2 separate regions of the Homo sapiens genome follow, and region 2 is linked to region 1. The links come from fine-mapping of genetic effects on gene expression. Tissue or cell type: whole blood. Region 1 holds a variant in brackets; the other region holds the start of a gene. All regions are shown on one strand. Distances are from middle to middle.

Region 1 (5,385 bases):
TTCCCACCAGGTTCTCCTGCCACCAAGATGTGTTCTCCTTACTCCATCTCCTCCCCAAACACGCTCCATGTATATATTCTTCTGATGGCCAGCAAATGAAATTCTGCCTAGAAATTAAGCCCGAGCTGTTGTATATTGAGGTGTATTATTTACGTCTCTGGTCCAGTCTTTTCTGGCAAATAACAGTAAAGATGGTTTAGCAGGTCACCTAGTTGGGTCAGAAGAGTCGATGATCACCAAGCAGGAAAGGGAGGGAATAGAGGAATGTGTTCGGGTTAAGTGATGAAAATGGCAGTGGTGGCCGGGCGTGGTGGCTCTCGCCTGTAATCTCAGCACTTTGGGAGGCCGAGGCAGGTGGATCACCTGAGGTCAGGAGTTCAAGACTAGCCTGGCCAACATCATGAAACCCCGTCTCTACTAAAAATACAAAAATTAGCCAGGCATGGTGGCACACACCTGTAGTCCCAGCTACTCGGGAGCCCAACGCACGAGAACCGCTTGTACCCAGGAGGTGGAGGTTGCAGTGAGCCGAAGTTGCACCATTGCACTCCACCCTGGGCGACAGAGCAAGATTCTATCAAAAAAAAAAAAAGGCAGTGGCAAGTAAGTTATAGAAGAGAAATGCTGCTAGAAGGAATTAAGCGTTGTAGTAAATGCGTGCTTATCCTCTAAGCTTGAAGAAGGGAGACGAAAATCCATTTGTTTAAATTCACATCTCAAGGAGGGAGAACCCGGGCTGTGTTGGGTGGTTGCCAATTTCCTAGAACGGAATGTGTGGGGTATAGAAAAAGGAATGAATAAGCGTTGTTTTTCAAATAGGGTCCTTGTAAGTTATTGATGAGAGGGAAAAGATTGACTGGGGAGGGCTTAAAATGATTTGGGAAAACAATTGCTTTTGAGGCTCAGTGACAACGGCAAAGATTACAACTTAAAAAAAAAAAATAAATAAAAAATAAAGGAAGTTGCACGGTTATTTTGCAACACAAGGGGGCGGCAAGGTCCCCATTTTTATCCTGTAATACTGTATCCCTAACAAAGATTTGGTCTCTGCTATCTTACATTATTAATGTTTCTCAGATGGCTGAGGGGCTCGCTTCATCTGTTCCGTCTGACACTTATCTCAAGTGTGTCTGTCATTCCTAATGTTCTCAGGATGTGCTCTGATAAAACCCTCCCCATAACCTCAGTTAATAAAAATTTACAGAAGACTTCTCAAATACCTGAGTTGTTTTTAATACCTGTACAAAGGAGTAAATAGGACCCTGAGTCTATTAAAATGTAATTCAAAGTAGCATATGATTGACTGACAGTCATGTAAACTGTATCTTTCTTTTTCTGATTTAATAAAAAATACATTTACTTCTAAAGTATCTTTTAATTTTCAACTTCAAAGCAGTCCCACTCTATATCTGAGATGACTCTAACTTCTACATTATAAAATCCATACTCTTTCTCCATTATCTTCTTTGGAAGATCATTCTCTCCCAGATCTTCCCGGATTTCCTTGTATATGGGCACACACACACACAAATGTGTGCAGTTGTATGTTTGCATGTACACACACATGCATGTATAGAATAGTGCTGTCTTAGGCCAGGTTGCTTGGAGCAGAGCCTGAGATGGGGATTTGGACGCATAGGATATACTGAGAGTGGGCTCCGAGGGAAAGGGAGTAAGAGAAAAAGAAGAGGGCAAGAAAAGAGTTGGGCAAGGGTTGGTTTCAACTGGAGCATGAATTGCACCACCCAGATAGTTTGACCTTGAGTCAAGGGAGCCAGCCTTTGAACCCTGGTAGGTGAATTCTGGGCTGCCCTGGGAGGTGGGGGGATGGGCAAGCGGCCCCCATTGAGCTGAGAAGCTGGGATGCCTAAGTAACTGGAGGATGAGTGCATTGACAGTGTCCACTACAGATACACACCTATATGTTCAGATACATATTTATACCCATATTTGCATATATATGCACATATTCATATATATAAATATATATCATGCAGGAATAGATCCATGCACTCACACAGTCATATTTACATACATGCAAATAAACACATGTAACTAACACAGATCCACACACACACATTGGCTCACACAAATCTATCTCATATGCAATTCATCACACATTGATCGGAGATAAACATTGAATATACTCTCCTGATGTGGATGGACCTCGACTCTAAGGACAAGTTTGCTGCTTAGGCAAATTACACCACGGCTTTGGCAAATAGGCATTTGGAAAATGTGTTCAGAAAAATATGGTATCACTCAAAACCCAAGCGTAAGTGAGGAGGGGATCCTGAGCTGCTGGGGCCTATTAGCTCCCAGCTTGGACAGGTCAAATTCGTGTTTCCAATAAAGACCAGAGGTCTTTTCCTTGCAGCTGGGTTAGTTTTTTCAAACCTCCTGACCATACCTCGAGATTACTCACACCTGTGCCTCACCCAGTTGAGAACTATCTCGTGCCGCTTAGTATCAGAATGCTTAACTTGGCATGAAGCAGGAAAACAGCACTTGGGGAAGCCATTGGTGGGAGGCCCATCACTGCCATCGTCAGAGCACGGGGTGATTCAAGGAAACCAGGCAGCTGCTATTCCTTTGTCTCCAAACACCGTGGGGGTTGTCTGCTGCAACCTTTGGTGAGCTCCTGAGCTGCAGTCCATTGAGGAAGGTGACAGTATCATTTGCAAGTTTCACCTCGCTGGGTACAGGGGCTTTTTGCCCAGATAAGAAATGCCCCTAGGCAGGAGGAAGAGAAACAGACTGAGTAGCCCAGGCCAGTTACTTAGCCAGTTACTAAGGCAGATGGAGCCCTCCCAAGCCCCCACTCAAACAAAACAAAACAAAATAAAACAAAAAAAAAGCCTCTTTGCTGAGAATCTCTCTGCAAAGCATGCCAACAGTTTTTATAACTGGTTTCCTATGCTCCTGGGCCAAAAAAGAGAATAGTCTTTTAATGAAATTGCTTTTTTTTAAAAAAGCAAGAAATGCCAGAGAGAAGTAAAGCGCATGACTTACTGGGAGAACTCTAAATTCAGTTAT[G/A]GCTTAAGAAACAAGTTAATACTCCATTTTTGTGTTTGTGTGTGTGTGTGTGTGTTATTGTTGTTGAGATCCCATTTCCAATGCATTTACAATAAATACTAATGCCCACCCCTTATGCAGAACTAGAGTGAAAAAGAGCTGAAACTCACCAATAAACCCAAGAAAGCCTTTAGGACACAGATTCCCAGAAATGCCATCAGACAGAACAAGCAGTGGGGGAAATAAGCAAAGCAAAGGTGGCACACAGAAAAACATGATTAAAAGAGAAAGAAGAATTAAGACCTGGGGGAGGGAGCAAAAATGACTTTCTTATTATTATTATTTATTTACTTATTATTTATTTTTAGGTACACAGGGAAGTGTGTCTTCTCCCATGTCAAGAAGAAGTGGCCTTTCCAGGAATGGAGCTATTGAGCTGAAATGGCTGCCACTGCGCGTACACACACACACGCGCACACACACACACACACACACACCTCCCTTCCAGTTCCAGCTGACGGTGACTTTTTGACTGGTAACCATAAAAGAATTCATTCAAAAGGGCAGTTGTTCCCAGCAGCCAGTGAGGTCCTTCCTGCATTCGTTGTCTTGGAGAAGGAGGCACATAACAAAATAGAAACCAAAATGGGAAGGAAAAGAGAAAGAAAGTGAAATTCCTGGTCTTTGTTGTATGTATCCCCTTGCTTTTTAGATAAATTATCAGGGGTTTAAACACACACTCTCTCCCCTCCCTCCTCCCACTTCACACACACTAGATTGTTCTTGTCTGTTTGCAAACAGTCCAGAAGCACTGGGGTCTCATTAAATTAGATTCTAAGTGTCTTAAAGAATTAGATTTCAAGAAACCAAGAATCTGTGTCCTTTCCCTTCTCAGAGTGCCTGGAAGGGTGCAGATTTCTCCAATCTGAATCTGACAATGTTATTTCTTATGTCAGATAATCCCAAGTAGATCTTATACCTTAAAAAAATAAAATCAGCTACACTACCTACCTTACAGGGAAGGAAAAAGAACTAATTCCAATTATTAACTAACCCAAGATACAAACACAGGGGAAACTAGGGAATGTGCTTTGCAGCAATGTAAGATTATAGGGGTTGGTTTTAACCATCCTTTGAATGTCCCTCTTTAAGCCTTTTTAAAGGGCAATTTTGCACGGTGAGTAGAATTAGGCTTCTCCGTGGTCAAGATTTTGTTCACTCTATCAGTGCAAATTAAGTGGCACCGGCCCACTGGAAATTATAGTCTCCATTAGGAAGAAAAGAAATTACTTACCGAGCAGCAAATTCTCTAAATTTGTAATTCAGATCTTTAGTGCAGAATGCCGGTCAGGATCCAGCCCTTTGCATAAATTGGTTTTCTGGGGAGTTTAACCCCTTAGCCTCTGTTGCCCTTTTCTTGAATGGCATTCACGCAACCCTCTCCATCTCCTGGCCCTTTAACTGGCCCCGGCAGAAGTTGCAGTCCACAATTTCACAGAAGTAAGGATAATACATTATCACACATTACCGTTTATAAAGTGCTCTGGGTACAATCTGTAATTTAAAGCTGTATTTCCCTCACTGAACTTAAGTGCTTCCTTTGTTACATTTCATTACCGGGGGACTGGCATGCACCTGTATAGATTTTTTTTTTTTTTTTCATTTTTTGTTTTGTTTTGTTTTTCCAAATAAGCACTTCTTGACAAAATGGCCCCCAGCTGCACTTCTGCTAATGACAGCCATGGAAGGGCTGGTTCCTTACGTGATCTACTCTCTCAGAAGCTTGCTTTTGTCAAAATGCAGCCACGTGGGGGAGCTGCAGGACCTGGGGTTTTACAATGCCTAGCCCTTTTTCCCTGATTGCCTAACCGGGAAACTGGGCCAAAGCAGCCTGAGAGTGTATTTGTTGATTAACTTCTAGAAAGCAGTCAAGTTTAATTAGGAGAACTAGAACGAGAAAGCTGAACTGGGCAAGTCAGTTGCCTTCTATGATTCTCAGTCCTCCAAATGAAGATAAGGTTGGTTGGTTTGTGTTTCCATCCTTATCTGCTCTATCTTGGAAGAAGCTCAAGGAAGATTGTGTGATTGCAAAACGTTTCAGTTGGTGTCATTGCAATGCATTTAAGTAATCCTTACTGGCCCATCCTGCTCCACAAAGCAGCCTTACCTCTCATCTTCTCCACTCCCAACTAAAGAGCAAGTGATTTAAACTCTGAGTGTCCTCCCTCAACAATGGGCTAATAATAGAGCCTACTCGTGGAGTTGCTGCCAGCATGCAGTGAGATGGTGCATACCAAACATTTAGTGCAGTGGCTGGCACATTGTAAGCACTTAGGAAAGGCAAGCTATTCTATCATGGGGAACTTTTAG
Region 2 (5,385 bases), 27 kb after region 1:
TGTGTGCTATATCTGTTTTCTCTCCAGCAGATTATTCAAATACCATCTAGTTGAAGTCAAGCTGTCCCAAAGCCCACTGAATCTTTGTCCCAAAGGTCCCTGTAGGAGCCCTGGAAGAGCTTCCTCTGCTATATTGTAATCTCTTTCTCCGTGAATATGTGATGATTGGATGCTTTCAGCCCAATTCTTTTCTCCTGCCTCATGTCCCCTAGAGATCCCGATGGCTCCTTATAAAAGCCATGTGTGTCTTATCTCTTCCCATGCAGTCGCTAAAACCAGAAAGCAGGCTGGAAAACATTTCCCCCAACTGTACTGTTTTTCATCATTTCTTTCTGACACCCTCAGATAACTTGTTAGCATATTGTCTTTCCCCATTCAGTGCCGCCCTCACCGGGTGTTTGAGGGCTTAATGACATCACCCAGGAATTTGTAATTAGAAACAAAAATGCCTCTTTCAAAATCTATTAACACTGGAAGAGGGAAGAAAAAAAAAAACTTTTTAAGTTGCTGGTACAACCCCAAATGAATGAGGCCTCTTCTGACGAGGCAGAAACACTGCCAGCTTTCAGGACACTCCCAGGAAAGCACTGAAAACAAGTCACAAGTAACCTTTCTGGCTGCTGGTGCCAGTGCCACACGCAAGGGCTGACACCGGGACCTGGGATTGGCCTTGGACATTTTATAGGAAATGACACTGCTCTCTTGACTCTCCCTGGGAGAAGTTGTGTTTCTGGAAGCTCCTATAAGTCTCCAAGAAGTGTTGTGAATTTCTATCTCTGTGACTTTTGATTACTGAGTTTTTATTCATTCAATAAATTGTTTGGAGGGCCTCTCGCAACAAGCCTGTTCCTGGGGTCTTAGCTGCTGTCAATGGGGGTCACGGTGTGTTCCTGTGAATAGTAAGACCAGAGCTCTACCGTCTGATAGCCACTAGACATACGTGACTATTTAAATGTAAATTCAGAATAACAAAAATTAAATGAAGTTAAGAATTCATCCCCTCACAGTTGCGTAGCTGCATTTCAAGAGCCCAGTAGCCACATGTGGGTGGTGGTTACCATATAGGACAGGACAGTCCGGGCGCAGTGGCTCGCGCCTGTAATCCCGGCACTTTGGGAGGCTGAGGCAGGTGGATCACCTGAGGTCAGGAGTTTGAGACCATCCTGGCCAACACGGCGAAACCCTGTCTCTACTAAAAATACAAAAATTAGCCAGCCATGGTGGCGGGTGCCTGTAATCCCAGCTACTCGGGAGGTTGGGGTACGAGAATCGCTTGAACTTAAGAGTTGGAGGTTGCCGTGAGCCGAGATCGTGCCACTGCACTCCAGCCTGGGCAACAGAGAAAGGCTCTGTCTCAAAAATAAATAAATAAATAGATAGATAGATAGGACAGGACAGATGCAAAACATTCATATCATCCTAGAAAGCTCTCTGTGCAGTGCTGGACTAGGTAGTCAGATTTGCCTGGGACACTCTGGACTATACCTGCTGTGTCCGCATCATCATCCATAGCACTCTGTTTCACTCTCAAAAATGTCCTGGTATTTCAGCTACCCTTCTACCCGCTGAGCCACACTCTTTGCTAGGACTTCCCTGAAACCCAAACCCTTTGTCTTGATGAATAAGTTGGCAGTGTCCAGCAGTCTCCCCCACCCCATTCCCTCTCACCTATCAAAAGCAACAATTTTAGGAACAGGAAAAAAAAAAATCCAAGTGAAGAAGTTGTCATTTCTCCCCAATTAAATGATTTCCTTGTCAGCGGTTTCACTTTTGTTTTGTATTTCCCTTTGCCTAAAGCAGCTCTGATGGGCGCCCTTTGCCCTGAATCATGCCCACAGATCTCACAGGAAGGAGGCCGTCCCCGGCTTCTCCTGAGCCCTCCCGGCCACCCTCCCCTACTCCCAGCCTCCCCTTCCCGTCTTGCCCAGCAGAGGGCGTCTGAGTTTAATATTCTCAATAAAGAGCATGTACACAATCACTTGGGATTTTTTTTTTCTTTCTTCCAGTGATACTTTTTCTTTGTGAGCAGCAACTGAGGTGCCAGATAATATAGGTCACCTGAAGGACAAGCCGTCAGAATTGGAGATCAGAGCCGCTCAGGCCGGCCGCCAGCTCGTTAGGGAACCGCACACTCAGCTCCCACCCAGCTCGGGACGCCCAGCGGGAGCTTCCCTTGCAAACACCAGCAGACACCATTTTGCAGAACTCTTAAGAAACGCGGGTTAAATGTGTTAGGTACAACGCATGCAGCCAAGACGGGCATGGAGAGCGAGAGGGCTGGCCCGGGGGGGAAGCAAACCTCCTGATGATGGGATTGCTCTTGCTGGGGGCTTTGTAAACAGCCTTGCATCTCACACCTCTGCCAGGCAACAAAATGGTGGTGGCTAGAAAAAATAAATAAATAAATAAACAACGCGGGGGTGGGGGGAAGGTGGCACCAGGTAGGTACCAGAGATGGACTTTTCTACAATTTTCTTGGGCTGTCCGTTACCAACAGTTATTCTCTCTCTTTTTCTTTCTTCCTTTCCTTCTCTGTCTCTCTCTTTCTCCACCCCCCTCCCTCTCTCTCTCTCTTCCCCCTCCCTCCCTCTCTCTTATTCTCCTTGTTACATTCTCTGCAGTAATCTTCCCCCTCCTACTGAAGGGGGCGGAAGACCCAGCTGATTTGACTCCAGCTCCCCCTCCTCAGCCTTGCAAATTCCTTATTGAGCATAATTTCTGATTTGTTTCTATGTATCTTAAGGGGTGAGGTGCTGAGGCAAGTTAAGAGTTCGGGTTATCTTGTTTGCCTGTTTTGGTGCACTGAACATATTTACGAAATGAAAAAGCTCCTTTCTAAATGGGTGTTAACTGCTCTAAGATTCCCAGGAAACGTGTTGAAGGGACATCTAAATGGAAATTGTGCAGTATTACTCCATTGCACCTTTTAGGAAGAAAACAATTGTGGCTACTCTGTTGGGCTCTGGTGGCAGTGTAGTAGTGAGTGATTTGTGTGACTGCGGCACATTCATTTTCCTTTTCTATTATAATCTCACCTTCCTTAAGGAATAAATGAGACCATACAGTAAAGGGCTAAGCAAAGTTGCATGACACAGCTTCGGTAGCAGCTGTTACTGTTTTATTATGTCTTTGCTTCAAGCTCTCTCCCTGGGCCTGGAGCTTAGCTTCTGCACACAAATGCTTGATGGAGAGAGCTCTGTGTTATCTGAATCCAGAAATTCTACAGCAGAGGTTTGGCTCCACCTCACCATTGATTTCCTTTCGGTGATTTTGTAAGTCATCACTTTGTAATGCAATTTCTCTCTGTATGAAACAAACGAGTATTTTTTTTTACCACCCCTTCTGAGACTGTTGATAAAACACACTCGACAAACGTTTTACAGCACCCTTGTGAGGCACTAAGGAATGGGGAGAAATCTACACCTAACCACCACCACCACCAGGCATCCCAGTGTGCTCAGGGCAGCGCCAGTTTTTGCAGAAGTATTAATAGCCCCTCCTTTCACTCCCCCAAGCGTCTTCGATGGGATGGTTAGTTATAAGGTCACGCTACAGAAAACATAACACCAGGCCTGGAGAAGTTCAGAGTCAGGGTGAGAGAAAAGACTGGGAGGAGGAGGTGGGCACTGGAGACCAGATAACCAGAGAGATAACAGATAGATACATAGATAGACAGGTCATAGAGATACATAGATAAGATAGATGATAGATAAGACACATAGATGATTGATAGATGATAGATAGATAGATAGATAGATAGATAGATAGATAGATAGATAGATGATAGATACATACAATATATATAGATGAGTAGATAAAGATAGATAGGTACAGCCAGGCATGGTGGCTCATGCCTGTAATCCCAGCACTTTGGGGGGCCGAGGCAGGAGGATCACTTGAGTCCAGAGTTCAAGACCAGCCTGGGCAACATAACGGGACCCCGTCTCTATTAAATAAATTTTTAAAAAGATAGATAGGTAATAGATACATAGATGACAGACACATAGGTACATAATACATACATAGATGATAGATAGATGGAAAATAGGTAGAGGATGGATAGATAGATGGTAGATAGATACATACATACATATAAATGGGTAGATATAGATAAGTAATAGAAACATAAACAGGTAATAGACACATAGATACATAATACATATATATATATACATACATCAATAGAGAATAGATGGATAGGAAGATGGATGGATGGATGGATAGATAAATAGATACCTGGAGATTAAGAGAAGGAGAAATGAAGCTAAATGAAGCTTCATTTAGCTGAGAAACTGAATGACCGTGGGCAAATGTGTCATCTCTCTGAGTCACTGCTGCTTCATGGGGAAAGCAGGGACCATTGAGTCAGGCCTGCTTCCAGGGTGTGTAGCTGATGAAATGACAGGCACCTGAGCACCTGGCACAGGACCTCTCAACATGCAACTACGGCATAGCAAAGAAGGGATTTGACTCCTCAAGAACCAAAGAGGAAACCTCAAAAGAAAACCATCATAATACATAGAGTTATGTGTCATTTCCAAAAATATAATTATATCTTATGCTTTATTTTATATATATGTATATATACATGTATCTGTATATGTGTATATATATACATGTATACGTACATATATACGTGTATATATACGTATACATATATACACATGGATATATATACACACACATGGATATATATACATATATGTATATATACATATATACGTATATACATGTATACATATATACGTATATATATGAATATGTGTGTGTGTGTGTGTGTGTGTGTGTGTATATATATTTTTTTTTTTTTTTGAGACAGAGTCTCGCTCTGTCGCCCAGGCTGGTGTGCAGTGGCGCGATCTCAGCTCACTGCAAGCTCTGTCTCCCAGGTTCATGCCATCCTCCTGCCTCAGCCTCTCAAGTAGCTGGGACTACAGGCGCCCACCACCACGACTGGCTAATTTTTGTATTTTTAGTAGAGACGGGGTTTCACCATGTTAGCCAGGATGGTCTTGATCTCCTGACCTTGTGATCCGCCCGCCTCGGCCTCCCAAAGTGCTGGGATTACGGGCATGAGCCACTGCGCCCGGCCGCGTTATTATCTTTTTCCTTTGAACTTCACTTGGGGCTGTGGAGAGGACCCCGTCATCATCAAGGTACACGAAGACCTCTCAGATGGCCTTGCAAACTGTAAGGGCTCGACCTGTCTTTCATTCTTAGATTCCATTCCATGCCAGGAACTAACTACACAGCAGGCCAGGAGGGCAAGGGCTGGGGCAGAAGACAAGCACCATTCGACGGGGGCAAGGATGATGGAGTGACGGCTCCTACCTCAGCTGGGGACAGGAGATAAGAGACAGAGAGCACAGAAAGCAGTCTTGCACA

The links.
Region 2: it holds the start of BCAS1-AS1, and the variant in region 1 is fine-mapped to the expression of BCAS1-AS1 in whole blood (INTERVAL, PIP 0.99).

Annotation. Positions count from the first base shown.
Region 1 is chr20:53,939,523-53,944,907 of GRCh38, reverse strand. BCAS1 (brain enriched myelin associated protein 1) reads left to right here. Exons shown (of 13, transcript NM_001366298.2): 13 at 1-1,367. It overlaps BCAS1-AS1 (BCAS1 antisense RNA 1), which reads right to left. Exons shown (of 5, transcript NR_199019.1): 3 at 4,310-4,476; 4 at 3,513-3,623; 5 at 1,327-2,733. Among named protein-coding and RNA genes, the nearest start is that of BCAS1-AS1, 27 kb to the right of the region's middle. The variant G/A (reference allele first, on the strand shown) is at 3,037.
Region 2 is chr20:53,912,481-53,917,865 of GRCh38, reverse strand. BCAS1-AS1 (BCAS1 antisense RNA 1) reads right to left here and starts at 2,377. Exons shown (of 5, transcript NR_199019.1): 1 at 2,300-2,377.